4 linked regions of the Homo sapiens genome follow. The protein of the gene in region 1 interacts with the protein of each later gene in a pairwise test. Each region holds a gene or a part of one and is shown in the gene's direction. Other genes may lie near its edges. The genes, in order: HOMER3, CCDC141, CDK18 and MOS.

Region 1 (7,029 bases):
ATGAGTTGAGACTGAAGCCCCTTTAAGCTTCCCCGGTTTGATTCCTAGTTCATTTTTCTGTTTTTTTTTTGAGATAGGCTGCAGTGATCTTGGCTCACGCAACCTCCGCCTCCCGGGTTCAAGCGATTCTCCTGCCTCAGCCTCCTGAGTAGCTGGGACTACAGGAGTCCGCCACCACGCCCAGCTAATTTTTTGTATTTTATTAGAGACAGGGTTTCACCATGTTGGCCAGGCTGGTCTCGAACTCCTGACCTGAAATGATCTGCCTGCCTCGGCCTCCCAAAGTGCTGCAATTACAGGCATGAGCCACTGTACCTGCTCTTGAGTCCTAGTTCTACTGCCTGTAGCTCTAATTTTGGACACACCCTGCTCCTCTTTGGGACATCAAATGGGTGGCTGGGCTGGGCTGGGCACTTTCCCACATGCCCCAGCAATACCTTCATCCTCACCTCCCTGCACCCTGTGCCGTCTCTATACTTCCATTATTATCTTTATCCGTGGTTTTGTTGATGATGAGTGCTTTCACGAAGATCTTCTTCTTTTTTTTTTTTTTTTTTTGGAGATAATGCCTTGCTCTGTCCCCCAGGCTGGAGTGCAGTGGCACGATCTCGGCTCACTGCAACCTCCACCTCCCGGGTTCAAGCGATTCTCCTGCCTCAGCCTCTGGAGTAGCTGGGATTACAGGTGCCCACCACCTCGCCCAGCTAATTTTTGTATTTTTAGTGGAGATGGGATTTTGTTGGCCAGGGTGGTCTTGAACTCCTGACCTCAGATGATCCACCTGCCTCGGCCTCCCAAAGTGCTGGGATTACAGGCATGAGCTACCACACCAGGCTTTCTTTGTTTTCTTCTAGAAGGTTTAGAATTTACCTTTCTTCTTTTTTTTTCCCTCCCTCCCTCCCTTCTTTTTTTTTTTTTTTTTAACAAGATCTTGCTCTGCTGTCCAGGCTGGAGTGAAGCAGTGCAATCATGGCTCACTGCAGCCTCAAACTCCTGGGCACAAGGGATCCTCCCACCTCAGCCTCCTGACTAGCTGAGACTATAGGCGTATGCCACCATGCCTAGCTAATATCTTTAATCTTATTTTTTTTAGAGATAGGATCTCACTATGTTGTCCAGGCTGTTCTTGACTCCTGGCCTCAAGCGAGCCTCTCACTTTGGCCTCCTAAAGTGCTGGGATTACAGGCTTGAGCCACTGCACCCAGACAATTTACTTTTTTTTTTTTTTTTGAGACGGAGTCTCGCTCTGTCGCACAGGCTGGAGTGCAGTGGCGCGATCTTGGCTCACTGCAAGCTCTGCCTCCCAGGTTCACACCATTCTTCTGATTCTTCTGCCTCAGCCTCCCTAGTAGCTGGGACTACAGGCGCCTGCCACCACGCCCTGCTAATTTTTTTTGTATTTTTAATAGAGACGGGGGTTTCACCGTGTTAGCCAGGATGGTCTCGATCTCCTGACCTCGTGATCCACCCACCTTGGCCTCCCAAAGTGCTGGGATTACAGGTGTGAGCCACCGCGCCCGGCCCCAACAATTTACCTTTCTAATTTAGGTCTTTTTTTTTTTTTTGGAGACAGAGTCTAGCTCTGTTGCCAGGCTGGAGTGCAGTGGCCCGATCTCGGCTCACTGCAACCTCTTCTCTCCAGGTTCAAGCAATTCTCCTGCCTCAGCTTCCCAAGTAGTTGGGATTACAGACACACCACACCTGGCTAATTTTTGTATTTTTACAAAATTTTTGTTTTTTTAATTTTTGTATTCTTAGCAGAGACAGGGTTTCACTATGTTGGCCAGGCTGGTCTCAAACTCCTGACTTCAGGTAATCCGCCTGCCTCAGGCTCCCAAAGTGATGGGATTACAGGTGTGAGCCACTGCACCCAGCCTAAAAAATCATTTATTTATTTATTTATTTATTTATTTTTTTGAGACAGAGTTTCACTCTTGTCCCCCAGGCTGGAGTGCAATGGTGCGATCTCGGCTCACCGCAACTTCCGCCTCCCCGGTTCAAGCAATTCTCCTTCCTCAGCCTCCCAAGTAGCTGGGATTACAGTCATGTGCCACCATGCCTGGCTGATTTTGTATTTTTAGTAGACATGGGGTTTCACCATGTTGGTCAGCCTGCTCTTGAACTCCTGACCTCATGATCCACCTGCCTCGGCCTCCCAAAGTGCTGGGATTACAAGCGTGAGCCACCACACATGGCCTTATCTATTTATTTTGAGACAGAGTTTTGCTCTGTCACCCAGGCTGGAGTGCAATGGCACAATCTCAGCTCACTGCAACCTCCACCTCCTGGGCTCAAGCAATTCTCCTGCCTCAGCCTCCCAAGTACTAGGATTACAGGCGCCCACCACCATGCCTGGCTAATTTTTGTGTTTTTAGTAGAGATGGGGTTTCACCATGTTGGCCAGGCTGGTTTCGAACTCCTGACCTCAAATGATCCGCCCGCCTTGGTCTCCCAAAGTGCTGGGATTACAGGTGTGAGCCACCGCACCCGGCCTAAAAAATTATTTTTAAACTAAGGAAATTTATTTTAAAACCGGGGTGGTGGGGGGAAACATATCCTATCCTAACTGGAAAACTGGTATTGCTTTGTCATAAATAGGTGGTAAATGTAAACATGTAAACATTTAATACAACAAAAACAAGAATGAGATGATTACTTTCTCATTGACTTCTGATGTCTCTCAGAGCCTGAGACCTAATCTCTTTGTTATAAAGGAATAATAACAGGTGTTAAAGACAGATTAGCACCCACCTGAGGCTCTCTTTGTTGAAATAGCCCTGATAAAGATTAAAAGGGACCCCACATGTTGGCTCATACCTGTCATTCTCACACTTTGGGAGGCCGAGGTGGGTGGATCACGGGGTCAGGAGTTCGAGACCAGCATGGCCAATATGGTGAAACCCCATCTGTACTAAATACAAAAATTAGCTGGGCGTGGTGGCACGGGCCTGTAGTCCTAGCTACTCGGGAGGTTGAGGCAGAAGACTCGCTTGAACCTGGGAGGCAGAGGTTGCAGTGAGCTGAGATGGTGCCACTGCACTCCAGCCAGGGTGACAAAGCGAGATTCTGTCCCCCCCCAAAAAAAAAAAAAAAAAAGGCTGGGTGCTGTGCCTGTAATCCCACCACTTTGGGAGGCTGAGGCAGGCGGATCACTTCAAGCCGGGAATTTAAGATCAGCCTGGCCAACATGGTAAAACCACATCTCTACTAAAAATATGAAAATTAGCCAGGCATGCTGGTGCATGCCTGTAATCCCAGCTACTCATGAGGCTGAAGCAGAGGCTGCCGTGAGCCAAGATCATGTCACTGCACTCCAGCCTGGGCAACAGAGCAAGACTCCATCTCAAAAAAAAAAAAAACAAAAAACAGGAAAAGGGCCATTCTGGGGAACATGGCTAGACCCCGTCTCTAGAAAAAATTAGCCGGGCATGATGGCACACACCTGTAGTCCCAGCTCCTTGGTGGAGGGGTAAGGTGGAAGGGTCACTTGAGCCAGGGAGGTCAAGGCTGCAGTGAGCCGAGATCATGCCACTGTACTGCAGCCTGGGTGACAAAGTGAGACCCTTTCCTAAAAAGAGGACATGGGAATTCCTTTCCCTTTCTCAATGTGGCCCAATGTATTTAAATGCCACCTCTGTGATCTGATGCCACCTGCCCACCCACCATGGTACATCATTTTTCAAAGTTTCTCTCCTTCTTCCAAGGTGTGTGATAAGGGGATGGGTACGGTTCGAAAGTGGCGGGGCTGTCACTGAGTGATGGTGACCTGTTTGGGAGGATGGGCTGGGGTTTTACTGTCTTTTCCTCCCCACTCCCTTAGTTTGCCGAGAAGTTCCAGGAAGTGAAGGAAGCAGCCAGGCTGGCCAGGGAGAAATCTCAGGATGGCGGGGAGCTCACCAGTCCAGCCCTGGGGCTCGCCTCCCACCAGGTCAGCACTCCCTACTCCCCTATGCCTGCCTGGGCACCTGTGAGTCAGCCAGGCGCTCAACTGATATTGGGGGACCTTGATATTGGGAGACCGGGGCACTCTGCTGGTCGTCAAGACCCAATGCTTCCAGATGACCTAAGGTTAGACCCACAGCAGGGACCACAGAGGAGTGGTGTGGAGTGTGTCATAGAGGGTCTGGACCTTGCCTGGGGCCGGTGGGGTACACCCAGTAGGTCCCAGTAGCAAAACCAGCTCAGATGGCAGGATGGAAGACTAGAAATTGAAATGGCTAAGTGTGGCCGGGTGCGGTGGCTCACGCCTGTAATCCCAGCAATTTGGGAGGCTGAGGAGGGAGGATGACTTGAGGCCAAGAGTTCGAGACCAGCCTGGCCAACATGGTGATACTCCACCTCTGCTAAAAAATACAAAAATTAGCCAGGCGTGGTGGCATGCGCCTGTAGTCCCAGCTACTCGGGAGGCTGAGGCAGGAGAATCGCTTGAACCCAGGAGATGGAGGTTGCAGTGAGCCGAGATCGTGCCACTGCACTCCAGCCTGGGTGACAGAGTGTGACTCTGTCTCAAAAAAAAAAAGAAAGAAAGAAATGGCTAAGTGTGAGGCAGAACAACGAACTGTCCCTGCGTGTTTTCCCACATTAATTTATTCAGCATTATTTATTGAGCACCTGCTGTGTACCAGGCCGAGGGCTGTGCACAGGGGTTGGAGAGATGAAAAAAAGCATGAGCCTCCAGCTGCTGCCTGCACTGGGCTGCGGTGGCGCTGGCCTCTCGCAGGGCACCCGCCAGCTTGTCTACCCTCAGAGCCAGTGGTCCAGGCAGTGGGGTTGCTCACGAAACACGAATTCGGCCTGGGCAGGGCTTCCTGCTGAAATCCTAAACGTGATGTTGAAGTTCGGCCTCAGGGAAGGGAACAGCAGGGAGGTGTCCGATTGTACCCCTCCCCTACCTTACAGGTTCTAAGTATCTTGGTTTAGACTAACCTGCATCAGACTTGCTCCTGGGGGTGGTGAAAGCCCAGGAAGGCAAGGTCGAGGGCGTGGGCATGGAACTCCCAGCTTAGGGGCCACAGGGAGCCATGGAGGGTGGGTGAGGTGGGGAGGGACACACTTGGATCCTGTGCTGTGAAGGACCTGCTTAGGGTGCATAGGTCAATTGCACCCCCGATGTGACGACCCCAGTCACATCAGCCTTGATCCCAGCTGATGTGGGGTCGTGACCTATTCTTTTCCCCGTGCCTAGGTGCCCCCGAGCCCTCTCGTCAGTGCCAACGGCCCCGGCGAGGAAAAACTGTTCCGCAGCCAGAGCGCTGATGCCCCCGGCCCCACAGAGCGCGAGCGGCTAAAGAAGATGTTGTCTGAGGGGTGAGGGGCGGGACTTGGGGGCGTGGCAGGGGCGGGGGTAGGGGTGGGGGACGAGGAGGCGGTTCTTGGAAGCCAAGGGAGTGCCAGGACGGCGGGATCTAACTGTGGACTCAAGACCTGGGGAAGGGGATGAGGATCTGAATGCTGCCCCATCCAGAGCCGACCCCGCCCCTACCCTGCGTTGGCCACGCCCCTCTGTTTTGACCCCATCCCTGTCTCTTCTCGCTGCTAACCTCGCCCCGTCGATGCCTCTCTGGTCTTAGGATAACCACCCTGACCACGCCCCCATCGGCTGACTCTCCCCAACCTCCCATCCCTCCCTCAACATTCCCACAGTGTCACTGGGCGGACTCCACGTGCCCCCTTCTTTGACTCGGTCCTCGACAAGACCCCGCTTCTGCGGGACTGCCCCATCCCCAAGCTCAGCAATCAGTGTCGCCACATCCCCAGCCCTGCGTGGCCCTGACTCCGTGCCCTAGCCCAAAGCCACCCCTCCTCTGGCCCCGCCCCCTAGCCCAGCATCGCCCGTGACTCCGCCTCAGCCCAGCGCCACCCACCCTGGCCCCGCCCCCTAACCGAGCATTGCCGCTGACTCCGCCCCCAGCCCAGTGCCACTCCACCCCTGCCCCGCCCCCTAGTCCAACTTCGCGCACGACTCCGCACCCTCGCCAGCCTTCGCCCTGACCTAAGCCCAGAGCTATCCCACCCCTGGCCCCGCCCCCTAGCCCAGCATCGCCCGACTCCGCCCCCCAGCCCCGTGTCACCCACTGCCGACCCTCGTGTCTCTGCAGCTCCGTGGGCGAGGTACAGTGGGAGGCCGAGTTTTTCGCACTGCAGGACAGCAACAACAAGCTGGCAGGCGCCCTGCGAGAGGCCAACGCCGCCGCAGCCCAGTGGAGGCAGCAGCTGGAGGCTCAGCGTGCAGAGGCCGAGCGGCTGCGGCAGCGGGTGAGGGCACCCCTCCCTCCGAGAGACCCCCACCTGGCCCGGGCAACTGTGGAGACCGCGCCTCGGCAGTTCCCATCTGCCCTGGGTTCATGGACTAGCTGTGTGACCTCAGCAGGTCACTGACCCAGCCTCAGTTTCTTGCTCTGTAAAATGGGTTTGAGACAATGCCAGCCTCAGAGGGTGATCAGACACTAAAGTCCAAGCTGTGCAGAGGGGGGTGGTGGCACCAACCAAGGGAGATGGGTGCTCGGTCCTGGGCGTGGCCAGACAGGAGGCAGATTCCCTAGAGGTTGGGCGAGCAAGGGAGAGTGCAGGCGGGGGCGTCAGGGGCTGCTATTCCTGCCCTACAGGTGGCTGAGCTGGAGGCTCAGGCAGCTTCAGAGGTGACCCCCACCGGTGAGAAGGAGGGGCTGGGCCAGGGCCAGTCGCTGGAACAGCTGGAAGCTCTGGTGCAAACCAAGGACCAGGTGAGTGCCAAGTGTGGTTCCTGGGCCTCGCCTTCCCTCACCTCCTGTGGGAAAGCCAGGACCCCCGCAACAGACCCTGGGAACTCTTCTCCTCTAGGAGATTCAGACCCTGAAGAGTCAGACTGGGGGGCCCCGCGAGGCCCTGGAGGCTGCCGAGCGTGAGGAGACTCAGCAGAAGGTGCAGGTGTGTGTGGGCACAAGGAGGTGGGGTGACGGTGGGTGACAGTCACCTCAACAGACACTCAGGACAATATCTACCTAAGATGATAAAGTATTGGGAGGCCCAGTCCTGTGGAAGGCCTGATGC
Region 2 (7,192 bases), on another chromosome or scaffold:
CCTATCCACCCCACGGTGCCAAACCCATATACTCTCCTATCCTCAATAGCTCCCTCCACAATCCATTATTCTGTTCTGGATCTCAAACATGCTTTCTTTACTCTTCCTTTGCACCCTTCATCCCAGCCTCTCTTTGCTTTCACCTGGACTGACCCTGACACCCATCAAGCTCAGCAAATTACCTGGGCTGTACTGCCGCAAAGCTGCACAGACAGATCCCATTACTTCAGTCAAGCCCAAATTTCTTCCTCATCTGTTACCTATCTCAGCATAATTCTCATAAAAACACATGTGCTCTCCCTGCTGGTAGTGTCCGGCTAATCTCCCAAACCCCAATCCCTTCTACAAAACAACTCCTTTCCTTCCTAGGCATAGTTGGATACTTTCACCTTTGGATACCTGGTTTTGCCATCCTAACAAAACCGTTATATAAACTCACAAAAGGAAACCTAGCTGACCCCATAGATCCTAAATCCTTTCTCCACTCCTCTTTCCATTCCTTGAAGACAGCTTTAGAGACTGCCCCCACCCTAGCTCTTGCTGACTCATCCCAACCCTTTTCATTACACACAGCAGAAGTGCAGGGCTGTGCAGTTGGAATTCTTACACAAGGACTGGGATCGCATCCTGTAGGCTTTTTGTCCAAACAACTTGACCTTACTGTTTTAGGATGGCCATCATGTCTCCGTGCAGCAGCTGCTGCCACCCTAATACTTTTAGAGGTCCTTATAATCACAAACTATTCTCAACTCACTCTCTACAGCTCTCATAATTTCCAAAATCTATTTTCTTCCTCACACCTGATGCATATACTTTCTGCTCCCCGGCTCCTTCAGTTGTACTCACTCTTTGTTGAGTCTCCCACAATTACCATTGTTCATGGCCCGGACTTCAATCCAGCCTCCCACATTATTCCTGATACCACACCTGACCTTCATGACTGAATCTCTCTGATCCACCTGATGTTCACCCCATTTCCCCTCATTTCCTTCTTCCCTGTTTCTCACCCTGATCGCACTTGGTTTATTGATGGCAGTTCCACCAGGCCTAATCACCACACACCAGCAAAGGCAGGCTATCCTATATTACAAGCCACTAGTCCGCCTCTTAGAACCTCTCATTTCCTTTCCATCGTGGAAATCTATCCTCAAGGAAATAACATCTCAGTGTTCCATCTGCTATTCTACTACTTCTCGGATTATTCAGGCCCCTTCCCTTCCCTAAACATCAAGCTCAGAGATTTGCCCCCACCCAGGACTAGCAAATTAGCTTTACTTAACATGCCCCAAGTCAGGAAACTAAAATACCTCTTGGTCTATGTAGACACTTTCACTTGATAGGAAGATACCTTTCCCACAGGGTCTAAGAAGGCCACCACGGTCATTTCTTCCCTTCTGTCAGACACAATTACTCGGTTTGGCCTTCCCACCTCTACGCAGTCCGATAGTAGACTGGCCTTTATTAGTCAAATCAGCCAAGCAGTTTTTCAGGCTCTTGGTATTCAGTGAAACTTTTATATCCCTTACAGTCCTCAGTCTTCAGGAAAAGTAGAACGGACTAATGGTCTTTTAAAAACACACTTCACTAAGCTCAGCCACCAACTTAAAAAGGACTGGACAATACTTTTACCTCTTTCTTTTCTCAGAATTCAGGCCTGTCCTCGGAATGCTACAAGGTACAGCCCATTTGAGCTCCTGTGTGGACGCTCCTTTTTATTTAGCCCCAGTCTCATTCCAGACACCAGACCAACTTAGATTTTGCCCCCAAAATCTTGTCATCCCTACTATCTTCTGTCTAGTCATACTCCTATTCACCATTCTCAACTACTTATACATGCTCTGCTCTTGTTTACACTGCTGGTTTACATTGTTTCTCCAAGCCATCACAGCTGATATCTCCTGGTGCTATCCCCAAACTGCCACTCTTAACTCTTGAAGTAAATAAATAATCTTTGCCGGCAGGACTATGCTGAATCTCCTTAGGCACTCTCTAATCAGATGTCCTAGGTCCTCCCAATTCTTAGACCTTTAATACCTGTTTTTCTCCCTCTCTTATTCCATTTAGTTTCTCAATTCATATAAAACTGTATCCAGGCCATCACCAATAATTCTAAATGACAAATGTTTCTTCTAACAGTCCCATAATGTCACCCCTTACCACAAAGTCTTCCTTCAGCTTAATCCCTCCCACTCTAAGTTCTCATGACGCCCCTAATCCCGCTCGAAGCAGCCCTGAGAAACATCCCCCATCATCTCTCCATACCATCCCCCAAAATTTTCACCGTCCCAACACTTTACCACTATTTCGTTTTATTTTTCTTATTAATATAAGAAAGGAATGTCAGGCCTCTGAGCCCAAGCTAAGCCATCATATCCCCTGTGACCTGTGTACACATCCAGATGGCCAGTTCCTGCCTTAACTGATGACATTCCACCACAAAAGAAATGAAAATAGCCTGTTCCTGCCTTAACTGATGGCATTATCTTGTGAAATTCCTTCTCCTGGCTCATCCTGGCTCAAAAGCTCCCCTACTGAGCACCTTGTGACCCCCCCACTCCTGCCTGCCAGAGAACAACCCCCCTTTTTCCTTTACTTACCCAAATCCCATAAAACGGCCCCACCCCTATCTCCTTTCGCTGACTCTCTTCTCAGACTCAGCCCACCTGCACCCAGGTGAAATAAACAGCTTTATTGCTCACACAAAGCCTGTTTGGTGGTCTCTTCACACAGATGCAAGTGAAAGAAGGAGCCTGCCTGCAACCTTCCAGGTCAGTTACCTCTTTGCAAGCTCTCCAGCCCTGCCATAAAATGAAACCATTTGCAATAGTTGCTACATCATAGCTTGCTCGGCATCTGCTTTCCTGAGCTCGCTCCAATTGTTCCCTTCATGGGGTCAGGTGAAGTTCGTGTTGCATAGGGACTAGGATCTAGGTATGGTTTCCATCTCACTGGGGCAGCAGGCAGATGCTGAGCGCAGAGGACATGGGTGGTGGCTACACAGCTGCAGAGCAGCCATGACATGCTCTTGGAAACAAAAATAATTGAACACTGAAGTATGTGTAAAAGTACTTTTCCCCTTTGAATCAAGAATATGATCATGAACCTTAGCAAAACAAAGCAATGGAGCTGACTCAGTCTTCTAAACATTGGCCCTGAACCTGAACCTACTATTAAATTGGGCTAAAAGGTTTACAGAGCAAGTGGATTCATTAAAACTGTTTTTTGCTATATTCTCTGTTGTGGCTTTGTCCCAGAGATTTCCAATGCTTCCAGCAGCTTTGGAGTTAGTAACTCTGATATGTTTGCATCTGACTTCTGACCTAAACTTTAGTGTTATTTTCAGCTGTTCTTTGACAGGGAATCCAACAGCTGCTGTTTAATACCACAGACAACTTGTGACACAGGCTGAGTTTCTAGCAATAGGATTAATCTACCAATGTGGGGCACTGATTTGAAGCTGGCTATAATTTTCCTGAACAGGAGGTGGGGGTAGGGAATAAAAAGCCTGAAGCACAGTACTTTCCTTTTTGTTTTTGTTTTTAATTGCAGCAAAATATATGTCTTAATAACTTTTAACCACACAGAAAACATTTTCTTGCTGCAATTAAAAGGTAACAGCAAAGTATTTTGCTTTCTCATGGTATTAATAACTGAACTTGAAAACCTTGTCCAATGGAGCAGAATAGTCACAAAGAAAATCTGAAATGATAGGCACCTATTTATAAATGCTGGTTGAAATATTTTTTAAAAATTCCTAAGAAATCTGAGGCTCTGAGAAAATGTGGCTATTCCATCTAAACTTCATTTAGCAAAGAACAGTAAGTTTTAGAAAAGCAGATTAATCTAAAAATGTGTTTTAAGCAATTTGTGACTTAACCCCAAGACAAATACCAAAACTTTTTTAAAGTACACTTTGGTAGTTCTCTTTGCATCAGAGAGATTTCAAAAATCTTGAAAAGATTGATAACCAGGTCAAAGACTTACTTGTTTCAAAGTCCATGGTTACAATGGCATAGTTTCGGTGGCAAAACTAATTTGGGTTGTCAGGATGTAATTTTTTTTTCCATTTGTTATCAAACATCAGCTGATAAGGAAAGAGCTTGAAGCTGTCCTCCACATTTAAGATAACAGCAAAAATAACAGGCACTTAGTGTCACCATACTAGGGGCGTGGCAATTCTCTCTCGTTCGCTCCTTTCTCTCTCACGATAAACTCAATGGGGTTGTCTATTTTTAACCTCCTGTTCTTTCCTTTTGGCAGAGTAATCAGTGTGAGCTGAGCTCTTTCCCTGAATGAATCCAAGTAACCCTGGCCTTCTGAAATGACCAGCAGACACACAACTGTCCAGAGGCTGCCCAAAGTATAAACTCTGGTTCTAAAGTACCATGTCCAGCCAAGGAAGTCCTAGTGTTGCGCTTTCTACGACGACAGTCAGTTCAGTTGCTGTGCAGGCTGGGGACTCCAAAATCGTTATAGCTGTCATAAAGGTAAGCTAACAACTTCCTTTTTTCTGTGCGGCTGTGGGCTTCTAGCTGTGTGTTGAAAACCCTAAAGAACATTCCATGCAATCGGCAGGACACAGCATAGAGAAGACAACGCAGCAAGCACTCTTACTGCTTTCTAAAATGGGCTACTAAGAGAAACCTCTACAAGTTTCAGCAGTTACCAGAGATTCTCTTTCCTTTCAGTCAGCCAGAAAGCATCTATAGCAGCTTGATTTAAAAAAAAAAAAAAAAAGAAAAGAAAGAAAAATAAAGAAAAGAAAACCTCTAGCATATACTGTCAATTTGGTCTTTAAAAGCAAGGCATTGGTAACTGGAAGTTCATGATTGCCTGACTAAAGAGTCCAATGGACCTGTGGAATGCTTGTGATTTTTGAGAGTGGATGTGATGGAGGTGGGAGGAGGCAGGTCCCGACAGACAGGGGGAGGGCACTGCTTTAAGCACGATGGAACTCAGAAAACACCAAGTAAAGGGCTCCGACATGTGCCCTTTGCCACACTGGTTTTGACATGGTAAAGAAACTACTAAATCCTTGTCCAGTAACGAAGACCATGCAAGGAAAGGTACAAAAGCTTTGTGTCAAATTTGCTCTTAACAGCAGGAAGTAGAAGCCACTTAGGGTTTACAATTACTGCATGTTTTATGACAACCCATTTGCCCATTTGCAAAGATGACCACACATCTTTAGGCTGAAGAAGAACTCCATGATTTTATTCTCCATGGAAATGCCCTGTAAAAAAAAGCTTTCAAGCACTAGGCTTGGGCTTTAGATGATATTCCACCTAAATAATTCAGTGTTTAATGAAGGGAAAGCTGGCAAACAAGCTGATGGTCACAAACCAGTTACTTTCAGGTCCCCACCAGGTTTAATTGAATGACTTTTCTGGCCTTTTGTTAGAGCATGGACAGCAAGCCATGTTTACTTTAACTTAATTGCTGTGAATTTTATGGTAATGTGAAAATTCATACCAGGAAAAGAGCACTTGATACTGAGCAAAACAGTTCACTATAGAAGGACAGAATGGAAAGTATTCCTGCCGAGGTGGATTTTCTGGTGTTGTGAGACTTCTCTCCCACAGGAACCAGGCCTCTGCTGACTTCCTCACCCTCCCATCTTTTCAGAGTCCCAGAGAGGAGATGAAAAGAAGCCTGATGCAGAAGTAGGGCAAACAGATCATTTGCACGGGATTAATGATACTTTGAGTTAACTGCAGATTTCAGCAATGAGGGAAAAGAGGCAAACTCACTATTTTTCAAAAAGTTAACTTTCCATTTCCTCAAATATGAACATTCTTGGAGCAGGATGAGGAATAATATTAGAGGATAAATTACAGAAGAATCAGAGGTAGATTGAACACAAAAAAATTACACTGGAAATTACACTGGAAAATTACACTGGAAACTCTTATTTTAACTGAATTGTGTTTCTAAGAATGTTCCCCCACTACCCTCTCCTCAGCCCTCTTACCTTACTGCCATCTCCATACAAAATACACCCCAAGCAATTCAGAGTATAAAGTCCACCTTAATGGAATGGAAGTGCCTGTGTGTGATTTATAGTGACTGTCCAAACTGTCTCAGGGGACTGAATATATTCTAAAATAGAAATACATTTTTCTAATTTCTCTTTAGTAATTCAGGTATCTACATGCGTATGCGTGTTAGTGGTTCATTTTGCTTAATGAGTTGTTGCTTCTTAGAAAAGCAATTCCTCAGGAAATGCAATGACAAATTATATCTTAGAGCAGTGTAAATCTTGTGTGGAAAGCAAGTTGACTGTGCTCAAATGGCAGTTGTCACAGGCATCTAATTTTGTTAATATTTTCCTACACGCTTTAATGAATATTCAACAACTAAGGTTGGAAAACAGCATATTTTACCTTTGAAATAAGATAAAAATCAATTTCTTCATCTGATATTTATTATTTTCAGCTAAACCAGCAAGGCCAATGTAAAGACACTAATCAGCCTAAATTGCATTTACAAGAACTTTCCCCATGGTGAAATTTGCATCCTACCTGCCCAAGTGGAATTTCACTATTTTTATTGAGTTCAGTTTTGTGAGTGAGAGAGGATACAGTTGTGTAAATTATTCTGTAACTTTATAATATTCAATAATACGTAATCCATTGTATGTTTTCCTCACTTGGGAATTTTTAACTCAAATCCAATATGCCAAGAGAGAATAATTTATGCTAAGAATAAAAAATAAAAGACAGGGCATGGATTTATATTAGATCTGTTGTGTTTCAATTTAAGTAAACCCCATCTCTATGGAAAGAATGGAAAAAAATAGAAAATAGAAAAAAGTGTTTACAGTATAACTGGAAATTTAAACGATATATTAAAAATGAGAAGGGTGAAGAGGAAGGAACAAGAGGAACTAAAAGTGCATTTTATTTAATTTTTATTTTTAGTGTGGCAAATGGGTACAACTTCAACTGGCTGAATCACAGCCCAATCTTCTAGAAATTGGCAGCAGTCAAGATGAAACCAAAAAACTTCTTCATGATCATGAACTTCTTTTGGCCAAGCTCAAGGTAAGATACTAAGATGTGAAGCAGAAACAAAATTAAAGAGACATAAAAAACTATTTCTTATACTTCTTGATTCCTCTGCTGTTACTGGCCTAGGGCCACTTTAATATGGTACCAGGTAGATAATGGAAAAATCAGTAGTTATTTATGAA
Region 3 (7,264 bases), on another chromosome or scaffold:
AGAATTGGCTCAGTCTAGCCAAGTCCTGCTGTCCCAATGACTCACAGACCTCTAACTAGCTAGGCCATAATGGGTCAGTCCATCTTCAGGTCTCTGCTGCCAATCTCCCTCCTGCCTGCCAAGGGCAGGCTGTTGAGGTGAGTTTCTCTGTTCTCACTTAGCTTCTCATTTCTCATGTCTTTACTTGATTCCTGGAACCCTAAAAAGGGCCCTCTGGACAAACACTAATGATCTCATACACATGCAGGTCGTTCTACAGTGTGCAAAGCACTTTCACAGTCACCTTTGCATTTAGTTCTCCCATCCTGAAAGATAGGTATTCACACTATTCCCCTTTTGCTATAGAGGAAAACAGAGGCCCAGAGAAACAAAGTGATTTCTGCACCTTAGGGGCGGAGTCAAGTCTCCGGCCTCCCAAATGTCCCTGCAGTGCTTTCAGAGACTGTGCCTGCTCGGATATAGGGCCAGAGGGGAAGGGAGCCCCTGACAATGTGCAGAAAAGAGATTCTCTGTTGGCTGAACTCTCCCTGTCTGGATGCTGTGCCTCCCAGGGGAAAGTGGGGCGGGCTTGAACTTTGGTTTTTCAGATGCTATTCAAATGCACTGCCCACACAGTCTGCGAGGGAGAGCTGTTTCCAGCTTCCCTGCTCAGCCCTCAGGCACCCAGGGACGCCTGTCCTATCTGCAGAGCAGTGGCATGTCACTGGCAGCGAGGAGGAGACAGGAGCAGAGTGGGCAGTGGGCTGAGCTGCTGCTGGGGCCACCATTGTCATGCTGCTCAGGCCTGCCAGCATTACACTGCTACATGGCTAGGGTGACCAGGGCCTCCCGGGGATGCCACAGATCCATTAGACTAGCAGAGGGGAAGGGGGCTGCAGGACCCACAGGGGATGGGCCCCAGGGGCTGGGGTGCCAGGGAAACCCCCAGCTGAGGGTCTGTTGTCTGTCCCTCTGCAAGGAGGGAGTTAATGGGCTGCAGAAAAGAGAAACAGCATTGATTGGGTGCCAAGTTTACATCCTATTGAAACCTCACAACAGCCCCATGAGAGAGGGACTATTACCATCTCCATGTTATGGACAGGAAAGGAAGTCAGATATGTCAGTAACTGCCCAAGGTCACACAGTTTACATGGCTTTAAAGCTCAAAGTATTGCTTGGTAAGGCAGCAGGGAAGGAGCCCCTCCTTAGTGGAAGTCCTAGGTAGTGCTGCTTCTACTGTGTTTGGCTTATTGCAAGATGCACAGAAAGAAAGTTGGCATCGGAGGGCAGGGGACACCAAGGGGTTCAGAGGGAATTTTTGAAATGGTACAGATGAGAAGCAGAAAAATTAGGCTGACCCAAAGAGCACACATACACAGGCCACTGATGTGTATGACTGGGTATCATGGACTCCCTATCCAGCTAGTAAGCCCTGCCCAGGGTCACTCTTATCTGGTTCCCCCCTCCCACCTCCCATCTGCACTTGCCCTTTCCTGGGGTGGCCAAAGCTTGTTGTGCCATTCTCTGGGCTCCATATAGATGCCCACCTGCAGTTCATCCTCTTCCTTCAACCCTGAGAACCAAGACGATGCTTCAAAACTGAAGCTTTCAGAGATTCTGAAGCAATCCCATGTGGTGGTGGTGGGGCAGGGGGTGATGTGACAGGCTCTGAGCAGGTGGCTGGCCCTACATCATTTCAGCTGTCATCTCTCCTCTGTGGAGCTGTCCCAAATTCTCTTGGGCAGAGTTAAGGGCTTCTTCCTCTGCTCAGCCCATATTGCCTTGGTAGGTGACTGCCTCTGCATATCTTTCTCCACCTGAACAGTGAACTACATGAGAATAGGAACTGAGACTTAAAATCATCTATCCAATGCAAGGATCCAGTATAGTCCTTGTCACATAGCAGGTGTTCAATAAATGTTTGTTGAATGCATGAATGATGGTAATTATATTTACTATCTATTGAGTTCTCCATTATGAGCCAAGTCCTATGCCAGGCCCTTAGCATACATTACCCTAATATGTACAACAACCATACAAGATTGATTTTAGCAACTTTGTTCTACAGATGGCCTCAGAAAGCTTAGTTCGCTTGCCCAAGTTCACAGAGCAATCTAAGGAGGTGCTGGGAATCAAGGCTCACTTAAGAAGCTCCAAGGTCCCACTCAGCCTATCACATCAGTGCTTCTAATCTTGACACTGTTGGCTCCCTTATCTTCTAGAATCCAATAGTCACAAGGCTCCATGACCCTGTCTCCTACCTATCTCTCAAATCAGTTCCCTCCTCTCCTCCCTGCTGCCGCTGTGTGGTCTAAGCTCATTCTCATTTTCCACTAGGATCAGCCTCCACGTTGGGGGTCTTCAGGACCCAGCACCTGCCTGCCTCTACAGTGTCACCTCCACCCCAGACTTTAAGTTCTGACCTCATGGAACTGTGGGTCCATATTCTGTCACCCCTGCACTCTGCACAAGGGATTACCCCTCCTGGAAAAAACAGGGAAAATCCTTCCTCCTCTCTCTTGTCCCCTCATCCTGTAACCCTCACCTCAAGCAGAATAGCTCCTCCCAGGCATCCGTAACACTAAGCCTCCTCCTATAGCATCCTAACTGTTTGCTTCCCTGCCGCATTACACCAAGAGCTTCTTGAAGGCAGGGACTGGGTTATACTCATCTTATGTGCCCAGAGCCCTGGCTATCATTTGGCACATAAGAGATGTTGAGAAAGTGTTTGTGGAGACCTCTTGACTTCACCCCCCTAGTTCCTTGAAATTCTACCCTTTGGCCCCACTCTCTCTAATCCGCCAGTAAACAGTTCCTTGGCCATAGTCCTTCTCCCTTTCCCTCCCTGCCCCTTCCAAACCTCTTTATGGCCTCCTGCTCCCCAGGCTTCTCACCATCCACTGGACTACAGAGCCAGGAGGTTGCTGCACACCTAAAGGCTCTGGATCCATGCACCCCGACAACACTTGGCAGTTTCATTTTTAGGAAGTGCTGTGCCCAGGAAATCTGCATGCCTTGGCAGAGAAAGCGAGGTAAAAAAAAAAAAAAGAGTTGGGAGGCCCTCTGTGAGATGTCAACTACCCACAGGTCACTTTCATGCATGGGCCCAGTGTCTTCCTTCATTCTCCTGTCTCCAGCTGACAGTGGGACCTCAGGCCCATGTCTTCCAGAAGGAAACTGTTCTATTCTCAACAACTCACAGTCCCCAGGGAAAGGGTTCAGGTAGAAGCACATGTACACTGTGGAGCACCCCCTCCTAAGGAGACTTTCCCTGTGGGAGACCCCAGACTGCAGCAGCCAAGCCCTCTGGTAGGGCAGGGGACACAGACTGCCTTGATGAGGTGCCATAGAGCCAAGGCACACCTCCTCTCCTCACAGCCCTCAGGAGGAAGCAGAGATGAGAGGGGCCTGGCGGTGGGGCACTGTGCCCTTCACCCCCATCCCCAGATTTTTGTTTTGTTTTTTTTTTTGATCCTTGAAGTCAGATGATGTGGGTGCAATGGCCATTGGCCTGAGTTCTAATCATGGCTCGCCATGAACTCTTGTGGCACTTTAGGCCAGTTCAATTGCTTTGCTGGGCCTCAGTTTCCCCTTCTGTAAAATGAGAGTGCCACTAGCTGAACTAGCCATTCTGTAACCCTTCTTGGATGATTCTCAAATATCCTGTGGAGTTTAATTCCAAAAGGACAAGTTGAATTATCCTTCGGGGAGGGAAATGTGAATGATGGCTGGTAACAAGGGCTTCATTCAGGTCCTGGAGAGGTGGGAACTTTGTCCGGAAAGGTAAGTGACAAGTCCCACTGGATAGGGTAGAAGGGGAGCCCGAGGGCTACTATTGTCAAGAAAATGACCACCAAAATCTGTCCATGCACATTCGTTCCTAGGGCGCCAGGTACAGGGAGGTACCTAGGAGAGGTAGGAGCACCGCTTTTAGAGACAGGCAGGCACTCTCAGTGTACCCCTGGCGCCTTGGTGTCCTGGGGTGATCCAGTCCAGAAGGCCTCATCCCCTAGCCAAGGCTCTCAGGGCCGGTTTTAGAAACGAAACAGGAAGAGGCACTTGGACCCTGGTTCCCAGAGTGGGAGAAAGGGGTGGGCACCCGGGCAGAGGGAGCCCTGGGGATTGGTAGCGGCTGTGGGCAGGGCGGGAGGGCCGGGGGCGGAGTCAACTTGTACATGTGAAAAACTCTGGCGGGGGCCGGGCATTTTCCTTCCTCCTCCTCCTCCTCCTCCTCCTCCCTCCTCTTCCCCACCTTCCTCCACTCCCTCCCTTCCCCTCCCCTTCTACCTCCTCCTCGGCCAGCTCAGGTTGCAGCTTCTCTGGGGAACTGCTCACCTTTCCGGAGCAGGGGAAGCTGCCCCGTGCCCGGGAGGGAGCGGGCGCACCGCGGCCCCCAGGACACGCGCTGTGAGTCCCGCGGGCGGTGCGCCTGGGAGGAAGGGGGAGGTCGGAGGAGCGGGCACCGCGGCGCCGGGTATAAGGAGCAAAGGTAAGCGGAACGGCTCTTAAAGGCGCAGTTTTGCTTTTGCCCTGAGGCGAGAGGTTGGAGGGAAATACCGGAGCGGCGAGGGGAGAGCAGAGATCACGAGGCGTGATCTGTGTGATACTGTGTTGTGTGTTGAGGGGTGGGGGGTGCCCTCGAAAGGCCACTCGTAAGTTCCAGGTGCTTGAGAGGGAGGGTTATTTTGCAATCTCAGACCCCGCGCCCCCTTAGGGAGTCTCCATCTGGGATCACTTTGGCCCCTGGGCTCCCGTCTGAACCCTACAAAGCAAAGTTTTCCACCCAGTCCGGAACCAGGCGCTTTCTAAGCTCCCTTCATTCTGGGAAGGGCAAGGGTCAGGAGTCTCCAGGGACCAAAGGACCCGAGAGTGTGGGGCCACATCGCTGCCTTGAAGGGCTTCCTGGGCTCTGGTGAACTTTCCAGAGCGGCAGGCAGGGGGTGGGAGGCCGGAGCCCTGGGAAGAACGTGGAAGGACACGTGAAGCCCTGCAGGTCCCAGTTCTGGGGGAGGCAGGGGTCTGGGGAATGCTGCTGCTTCTCTCTTTCCACCCCGGAAGACCAAAGGGGCAGTGCCCCCCTCCACCCCTCATCAACAGGCGACAGAGGGTTAATGCAGCAGAGGGAAAGGAGGCTGGGTGGGGCCGGGGGGAGTGGGCGGTGACCTGTTGGGCTAAGGAGATGTGCCTTGAGGATTCTGCTGTAGTTGAGGGACACCATCAGGAATCTGAAATCCAAAATCGGGTCTGGACTGGAGGCCTCTGTTTTCGCCCTGTGGGGGGCGGGGATTCCCTGAAGGTGTCTGCAGACCTTGTGCTGGGTGGGAGTTGGGCTGCAGAAACAGTGAGGGGTTTTCTGTGCTGCAGGGTCAGCACCCTCCTAGGCACCAGCCCTGCCTCTCTTCATTCTCTCTGGGCACCTCCCGGCAGTCGGGGTGGGAGGATTGACACTGTGGGAGTGAGAGGCCCTGGAACCTCTTCCGCGCTATCTGCTACTGTCTCCCCTTCTTCCCCACCCCTAGCCCAGCCCTCGGCAGTTCCCCAGCTGTAGCCTGGGCCCTGTGACTCACTAACACCACCGGCTTGCCCCTCCTGTGTCAGCACCCAGTGAGCTTCGGCATGTTCGCGTGGCATTCCCCACCCGGGCATGGGCATGCAGCACATTCCTGGACACGGGCCTGAGAGGATGCCTGGAGCGCCTGGTGGACTGGCACGTCCTCAGAGATCCCCTGCCTTTAGCCTGGCCTTGGGAGGGGCCTGGGAAAACGGTGCTGAGGGTGCTGAGGGTCGGTGGAGTACAGGGCGACACTGGCTCCAGGTCCGGGTTTGCATCCTGAAGGCGTTCCAGAGAGAGGGTCACCTTGCCACAGCAAAGCTGCTATCTCGGGTTACCCTTTCCCAGCCACCTCTTGTGCAGCTGAGGAGGCTGTGGGGCTGACCCCTCCCCCACCCTTAATCTGGGGTGTACCTGACCATTGGGTTCCCAGGACTCTCCCCACTGGGTCCCCAGGACTCTCCCCATACCCTGCCAGGAGAATGGAAGAAGCTCTCCACGCGTGCCAGAAGAAGTTCTTCCCAAACTTATCGGGGGTGCCAGAGGCAGAGTAGACAAGCCTTAGTGGCCACCATTTGTTGAATATCTACTGTGCGCCAAGCAGTGCGTCACAACTTTATGAAGTAGGTATTATTATCATCCCCATTTTACAGGTGAAGAAACTGAGTCTCTGAGAGACCAACTTTTCCAAGGTCACACAGAGGTGGGATCCAGCCCACTTCCGTCTGACCCCAAGCCCCTGCTGTTAACCCCTGCCCCATTGTGGGGAGGTTCCGGCCCACTCTGGAGTTCTCTGGTCTGCGTCAGTCCTCAGGAGAAGAAAGAATGGGGGTGATGCTCCAAATATTGAGGCTCCCATCTGTCTGTCCTGCACTAGGCAGAGCCAGGCTTCTCCATGGGGCACAGGAGAGAGGGCACCAGATCTGAGGAGCAAATAGGTTCTTGGTCTGAGATCTCGTGGGATCAGGTTGCCAGCCCTGCAAACCCCCGCTCAGGTCTAGAGGACATGGAGCTGCCTTTCAGGGTGCATTTGCTTCCTCTACAGACTCGGACTCTGTCCTCTGCCTACTTGGGCCGTCCCGCACTCGGGAATGCGTCCTACACTGTAGGGCAGAGCCCGGCTTGACTCTTCCCGGTTCCTACCCTAACCAAGCCTCTACTTTCTGGGATCACCCTGTTGGGACTTTTGTCCAGCATCTCCATCTACCTGTCCTCTGATTCCTTCTGTTCTTCTCTAACTGAGCTTGAGAACTAAAGGGGAGGGCAAACTTCTGGCCTTGGTGGAATCCAGCTCCAGCATATAGTAGCTATGTGACCTTCCCCTCACTAGCACACTCGTGAATTTCTCCCAGCATCCGTTCCCTCATCTGTAAAATGAGGATCATAATAGAGGGCTGTTATAAGATTTAGGCTGGGTGCGGTGGCTCACGCCTGTAATCCCAGCACTTTGGGAGGCCGAGGTGGACGGATCACGAGGTCAGGAGATCGAGACCATCCTGGCTAACATGGTGAAACCCCATCTCTACTGAAAAAAAAAAAAAAGCACAAAATTAGTCAGGCGTGGTGGCAGGTGCCTGTAGCTACTCGGGAGGCTGAGGCAGGAGAATGGCGTGAACCCGGGAGGCGGAGGTTGTAGTGAGCCGAGATTGCACCGCTGTACTCCAGCCTGGGCGACAGAGCGAGACTCCGTCTCAAAAAAAAAAAAAAAAAAAAAAAAAAAAAATAATGCACAGT
Region 4 (5,538 bases), on another chromosome or scaffold:
GGGACCGACGGCCTCGCCCACGTGCTTCCGGGCACCAGCGCGCCCAAAGCCCGTGCACTAGGAAACGCACAAAAGCACCAGCGGGCGAGCCCGAGGGCGAGCCCACGGGTAGCCAGGAGGCGGCGAGGGCGGCTTGTCTTCCAGAGACTGGGGAATCAAGAAAGGCAGAGCCACCTCCTCGGCCCCAGCGCAGCAAGTGCAGGAGGCAGGGAGGGCGCAGCGCCCCGCCGTCCACGGTACCCGTGGAACCCGGTGCGCGCCCCGGGAGCTGGGGCGGCTCAGGCCCAGCGTGCCCAGAAAGCCAACCACGTTGGTCAGGAGGACGTTCTCCCACTATCCGCGATCCTCAGGCTCTGATTAAAGTCAAATTAAAAGGAGCTATCCGTTCCGGTATCTGTTGTTACTCTTGTGATAAATATGGTGTTTGATACGAAAGTATCTTAATAGTCATGCTGCCAATCAAAGAACAAAACACGTAAAGCCTGTGCGCTAAGAACACGAGAGCATTTCGCTCCTCAGGAGGTGCAGTTTATCTTGTCTCCTTTGTTTCATATATAATTCCAAGGAGAATTCCTTGTTATCAACACATTTTGCTCTTTGCCTTTGGGGGATGACATAGGCATATTGCATTTGATCAGATTAGTGTTAACCTTCCACCCACGTTTTTACTACATGCTGTACCATTAATACAGCAGGATTTTATACCTTTAACCGCAAAATTCAAGAGCAGAAAAATACTCAAATTGTATGTTAGTTTAACATGAAAACGAGTTATTTCAGCCCTGATAGGATACTTTTAAACCAATACTACCTAACAAATATGTTTCTTATTCGTATAAGCCCATACACATGGTTTTTTAAATGAGTTTTATAAATAATAATTAGCATTGAGGCCCTGATCTAAGTATTTGAAACTCTGTTACTCTTCACAACAATCCTGAGATGGGCATATTTTCCTCATTTTGCAGATAAGGAAACAGGCACTGGGATGGTAAGAAACCCAGGCCATCTGGCCCCTAATAGCCTTTTACCACCATGCTAAAGCTTTACCCATTTTTGAGATCCAAAATATTACATAGTGCACACATATTTGGTAACCAAATCAGGATTAAACATTAAAGTTAAGGGCCAAGCACAGTGCCCTGTAATCCTAGCATTTTGGGAAGCTGAGGCGGGCAGATCGCTTGACCTCAGGAGTTCAAGACCAGCCTGGAAAACATGGTGAAACCCCATCTCAACAAAAAAATACAAAAATAGTTGGGTGTGGTGGTGTGTGCCTGTGGTCCCAGCTACTTGGGAGGCTGAGGTGGGAGGATCGCTTGAGCCAAGGAGGCAGAGGTTGCAGTGAACCAAGATCACACCACTGCACTCCAGCCTGGGTGACATAGTGAGACGCTGTCTCAAAAAGAAAAAAGCAAAATTAAAGTAAGAACATAATAAGAAATATGTTTGGCACTGTGTTACGGGGAGAAAAAATCAATAGGGAGATAAATCCTGCTTTCAGGGTAAGTGCAATTTGCTGAGTAAAAGAAATATTTTAAGATACCTTAAAAAAGAAAACAAAGGCTGTTGTAAATTGGATATTCAATTAAATATTCTTGGGCAGATTGGCAGATGATAGATCTAATGAACTTGGGGTTTATAAATACACAGAATGCCACATTTTCACTAATACCTTATGTTTTGGGTAAAGAGTAAAACCAACTTTGAAAATGAATTGTGTATGCAATTATCTTAAAAATAAAGATTATATAATAAGTCACATTATCTTGCATTATGTGTAATATCTAGGGGGTTAAGGCACTCTCATTCTGCTAATATTCACAGCACTCCTATTATATAACCATTTCAGAGCCCTGAATTATAATCCTAACTAGGTGACAGTTACTGAGTAAATTTTGCAATGTAGATTTATTATAGAATATAATTGTATTACTTTTTCTCTATTCATTGGCATCCTTTTATATTTGGGGTTTGACACAATTGCACACAACAATCTTTCTACTAAAATATTCCATAGAGTTGGCCAGGCATGGTGGCTCACGCCTGTAATCCTAGCACTTTGGGAGGCTGAGGCAGGTGGATCACCTGGGGTCAGGAGTTTGAGACCAGCCTGGCCAACATGGTGAAACCCCATCTCTACTAAAAATACAAAAGTTAGCTGGGCATGGTGGCATGCGCCTGTAATCCCAGCTACTCGGGAGGCTGAGGCGGGAGAATCGCTTGAACCCAGGTGGCGGAGGTTGCAGTGAGCGGAGATCGTGCCATTGCACTCCAGCCTGGGCAACAAGAGCGAAACTCTGTCTCAAAAAAAAAAAAAAGATTGAGGCTCAAGCAGGTTAAATATTATACACACACTAGATCACATACTAAGCCACACAGGTTGTATAGAATAGAAATCCTATTCCAGGGCTTCACAGACCTCAAATTGTTTCTGTAAATGGTTCATGTTTATTAATTTACCTTCTCAAAGTCAATATACTTCAAAAACAGAACTGCTATCATTAAAATGTGGTTACACATAACCTAACACATAAGTGCTTTAGAAGAAGGGAACTTTACCATTTGATTTTTTAAAATATAGATCCTAACACTTTTGTGTGTGTGTGTTTTCTCATGAATATGGTAATATTATTGGTCCTTTTTCCAAAGATATGGTATGAAATTAATTTTTTGCTTAGAGTCAGGATCTTGCTCCATCATCCAGCCTGGTGTGCAGTGGCACGATCATAGCTCACTATAGCCTCAAACTCCTCAGTTCAAGTCTCCTCCCGCCCCAGCCTCCAAAGTAGCTAGGACTATAGGAGTGCACCACCACACTCAGCTAACTTTATTATTATTTTTTGTAGAGGCAGGTCTCAAATTCTTGGCCTCAAGTGGCCCTTCCACCTTAGCCTCCCAAAGCACTGGTATTATAGGCATAACTCACTGCACTTGGTAGAAAATTAATTTTCATTATAAAAATCAGAAAGAAAGATCTTATTGTCTGATGGCCAATACCCTGAATTTCATTCCAACTTCTGGTTTTCTACATTATATGTAGGTACCAGTGATTTTGTGCCATTTTTATTTCTTCAGATTTTTCCTCTTCTACAATTCTCCCATATGTGTTATTATTTGAAGCCCTGATCACAGCTCTGAATCATTTCTATTCTTTTGTCTCCCCCAACTCTGGTTCAAAACTTCGGTAACTCATTTGCTACGAAGTCTAGAATCTCTCTTGCAAGTGAGCTGACCGGTTGGGCCAAATCGCCTTGGAAGGGAAGGATTGTTAGGAAGTCAGTATGTTGCTAAGATGTCTTGCTAATTTGCTGTGTAAGCTGCATAGAGTGTCAGGGGATTCTCCTTTCCACTGATGAATTTAGGTGTGTGTTATGACCTGTATCAGTGATTCTATTTGGATTGATTAAGGTTGCAATTTTTTATCCATATGAATGTTGCACCTAGTTTTTCCCTGTAATTGGTTAAACAAATGTCTGCTGTTTGCATTTTAACTCTTAGCCAATACCTGCTGGAAGTGATTTAATGCAGCTGGAGAATGACACTAACAATCATTACAGCCTGCAAAGTGTGAAACAATTTCATTGTGCTTTGTGGTCTCTTTAGTCTGAGGACTGATAATGTGCAGCGGATGAGACTTGAAAAAAACGTATTTTATTATAATTTAAGAAATAATGTAAAAGAGGGGTGAGTTCTGAGGCAGCTCCATGCTGTTTGTCTGGCATGAGCTTGTTTTTATAAGAATTCACTTCAAGTGTGGAAGGGAAATGCTTTCATCTGAAAGGGATAGCTGTGCTTCATTCCGGTTTCTCCCTCCATCTGATAAAAACTCTTGCTGAGTGACAGCACAGATGTAGCTCATTTGGAACAAGTGAAGGAAAAGGAGAAAAGGGATGAGGTGGAGCGAAGGAGTAGTCAGTCATGTTTCCAAAGTCCCGCGGTTTCCCCTAGTCTCTTCATTCACTCCAGCGGCCCTGGTGTCCCCCTGCAAAGTGCGATGCCCTCGCCCCTGGCCCTACGCCCCTACCTCCGGAGCGAGTTTTCCCCATCGGTGGACGCGCGGCCCTGCAGCAGTCCCTCAGAGCTACCTGCGAAGCTGCTTCTGGGGGCCACTCTTCCTCGGGCCCCGCGGCTGCCGCGCCGGCTGGCCTGGTGCTCCATTGACTGGGAGCAGGTGTGCTTGCTGCAGAGGCTGGGAGCTGGAGGGTTTGGCTCGGTGTACAAGGCGACTTACCGCGGTGTTCCTGTGGCCATAAAGCAAGTGAACAAGTGCACCAAGAACCGACTAGCATCTCGGCGGAGTTTCTGGGCTGAGCTCAACGTAGCAAGGCTGCGCCACGATAACATCGTGCGCGTGGTGGCTGCCAGCACGCGCACGCCCGCAGGGTCCAATAGCCTAGGGACCATCATCATGGAGTTCGGTGGCAACGTCACTTTACACCAAGTCATCTATGGCGCCGCCGGCCACCCTGAGGGGGACGCAGGGGAGCCTCACTGCCGCACTGGAGGACAGTTAAGTTTGGGAAAGTGTCTCAAGTACTCACTAGATGTTGTGAACGGCCTGCTCTTCCTCCACTCGCAAAGCATTGTGCACTTGGACCTGAAGCCCGCGAACATCTTGATCAGTGAGCAGGATGTCTGTAAAATTAGTGACTTCGGTTGCTCTGAGAAGTTGGAAGATCTGCTGTGCTTCCAGACACCCTCTTACCCTCTAGGAGGCACATACACCCACCGCGCCCCGGAGCTCCTGAAAGGAGAGGGCGTGACGCCTAAAGCCGACATTTATTCCTTTGCCATCACTCTCTGGCAAATGACTACCAAGCAGGCGCCGTATTCGGGGGAGCGGCAGCACATACTGTACGCGGTGGTGGCCTACGACCTGCGCCCGTCCCTCTCCGCTGCCGTCTTCGAGGACTCGCTCCCCGGGCAGCGCCTTGGGGACGTCATCCAGCGCTGCTGGAGACCCAGCGCGGCGCAGAGGCCGAGCGCGCGGCTGCTTTTGGTGGATCTCACCTCTTTGAAAGCTGAACTCGGCTGACTGAAAACCTGGTCAAGATAAGTTTTTGTCTGATTCTATTTGTTTTTAAAGGAAGTGGAGATGTCGAAGAAAACATATTTGTAGGATGGAGTTTTAGAAAATAAAGTTACTAAAAACTCCTTTAGTCTCCAGTGCTTTTTCTAGGACACATTAGCAAAGCTACAAGTCTAGTACCTGTTGTCTCAGTACTGTTAGTAACTAATCTTATTCATATAGTCATGTGCTTTGCTTTCCATTGCTAGTATTTCATTTATTTAAATTTGTTATTGATAAAAGTTTGTCCAAAATAGAACTCCACTGCAGAAATGTCAAAATTTTCTATAAATCCATATATATCCCATACCTACCACATAAATTCCAACTATTAATGGTGTAGTTGCTCCCACACCAAATCAGTAAAAACTTTTAAAAAAATAAGTAATGCTTTCCTACTACTCCCCCCAGTAAAACTTCTTGTTTGTAATGACCTTCACTCATAAAAGTCATACACTGAGGTACAT

Evidence for each region.
Region 2: the proteins of HOMER3 (region 1) and CCDC141 interact in binary tests that used the Homo sapiens proteins (3 or more experiments, as listed by UniProt).
Region 3: the proteins of HOMER3 (region 1) and CDK18 interact in binary tests that used the Homo sapiens proteins (3 or more experiments, as listed by UniProt).
Region 4: the proteins of HOMER3 (region 1) and MOS interact in binary tests that used the Homo sapiens proteins (3 or more experiments, as listed by UniProt).

The regions. Positions count from the first base shown.
Region 1 is NC_000019.10:18,931,202-18,938,230, reverse strand, and holds part of HOMER3 (homer protein homolog 3), read left to right. Parts: intron 1-3,820; coding exon 3,821-3,928; intron 3,929-5,185; coding exon 5,186-5,307; intron 5,308-6,098; coding exon 6,099-6,255; intron 6,256-6,605; coding exon 6,606-6,722; intron 6,723-6,819; coding exon 6,820-6,906; intron 6,907-7,029. UniProt on the Homo sapiens protein: Postsynaptic density scaffolding protein. Binds and cross-links cytoplasmic regions of GRM1, GRM5, ITPR1, DNM3, RYR1, RYR2, SHANK1 and SHANK3.
Region 2 is NC_000002.12:179,047,135-179,054,326, reverse strand, and holds the start of CCDC141 (coiled-coil domain-containing protein 141), read left to right. Parts: upstream 1-4,189; 5' UTR 4,190-4,385; coding exon 4,386-4,487; intron 4,488-6,920; coding exon 6,921-7,043; intron 7,044-7,192. UniProt on the Homo sapiens protein: Plays a critical role in cortical radial and GnRH neurons migration during brain development. Regulates cortical radial migration by negatively controlling the activity of histone deacetylase 6 (HDAC6) and promotes centrosome maturation.
Region 3 is NC_000001.11:205,500,411-205,507,674, forward strand, and holds the start of CDK18 (cyclin-dependent kinase 18), read left to right. Parts: upstream 1-4,258; 5' UTR 4,259-4,386; exon of another isoform or gene 4,387-4,468; intron 4,469-7,264. UniProt on the Homo sapiens protein: May play a role in signal transduction cascades in terminally differentiated cells.
Region 4 is NC_000008.11:56,112,442-56,117,979, reverse strand, and holds MOS (proto-oncogene serine/threonine-protein kinase mos), read left to right. Parts: upstream 1-3,997; coding exon 3,998-5,038; downstream 5,039-5,538.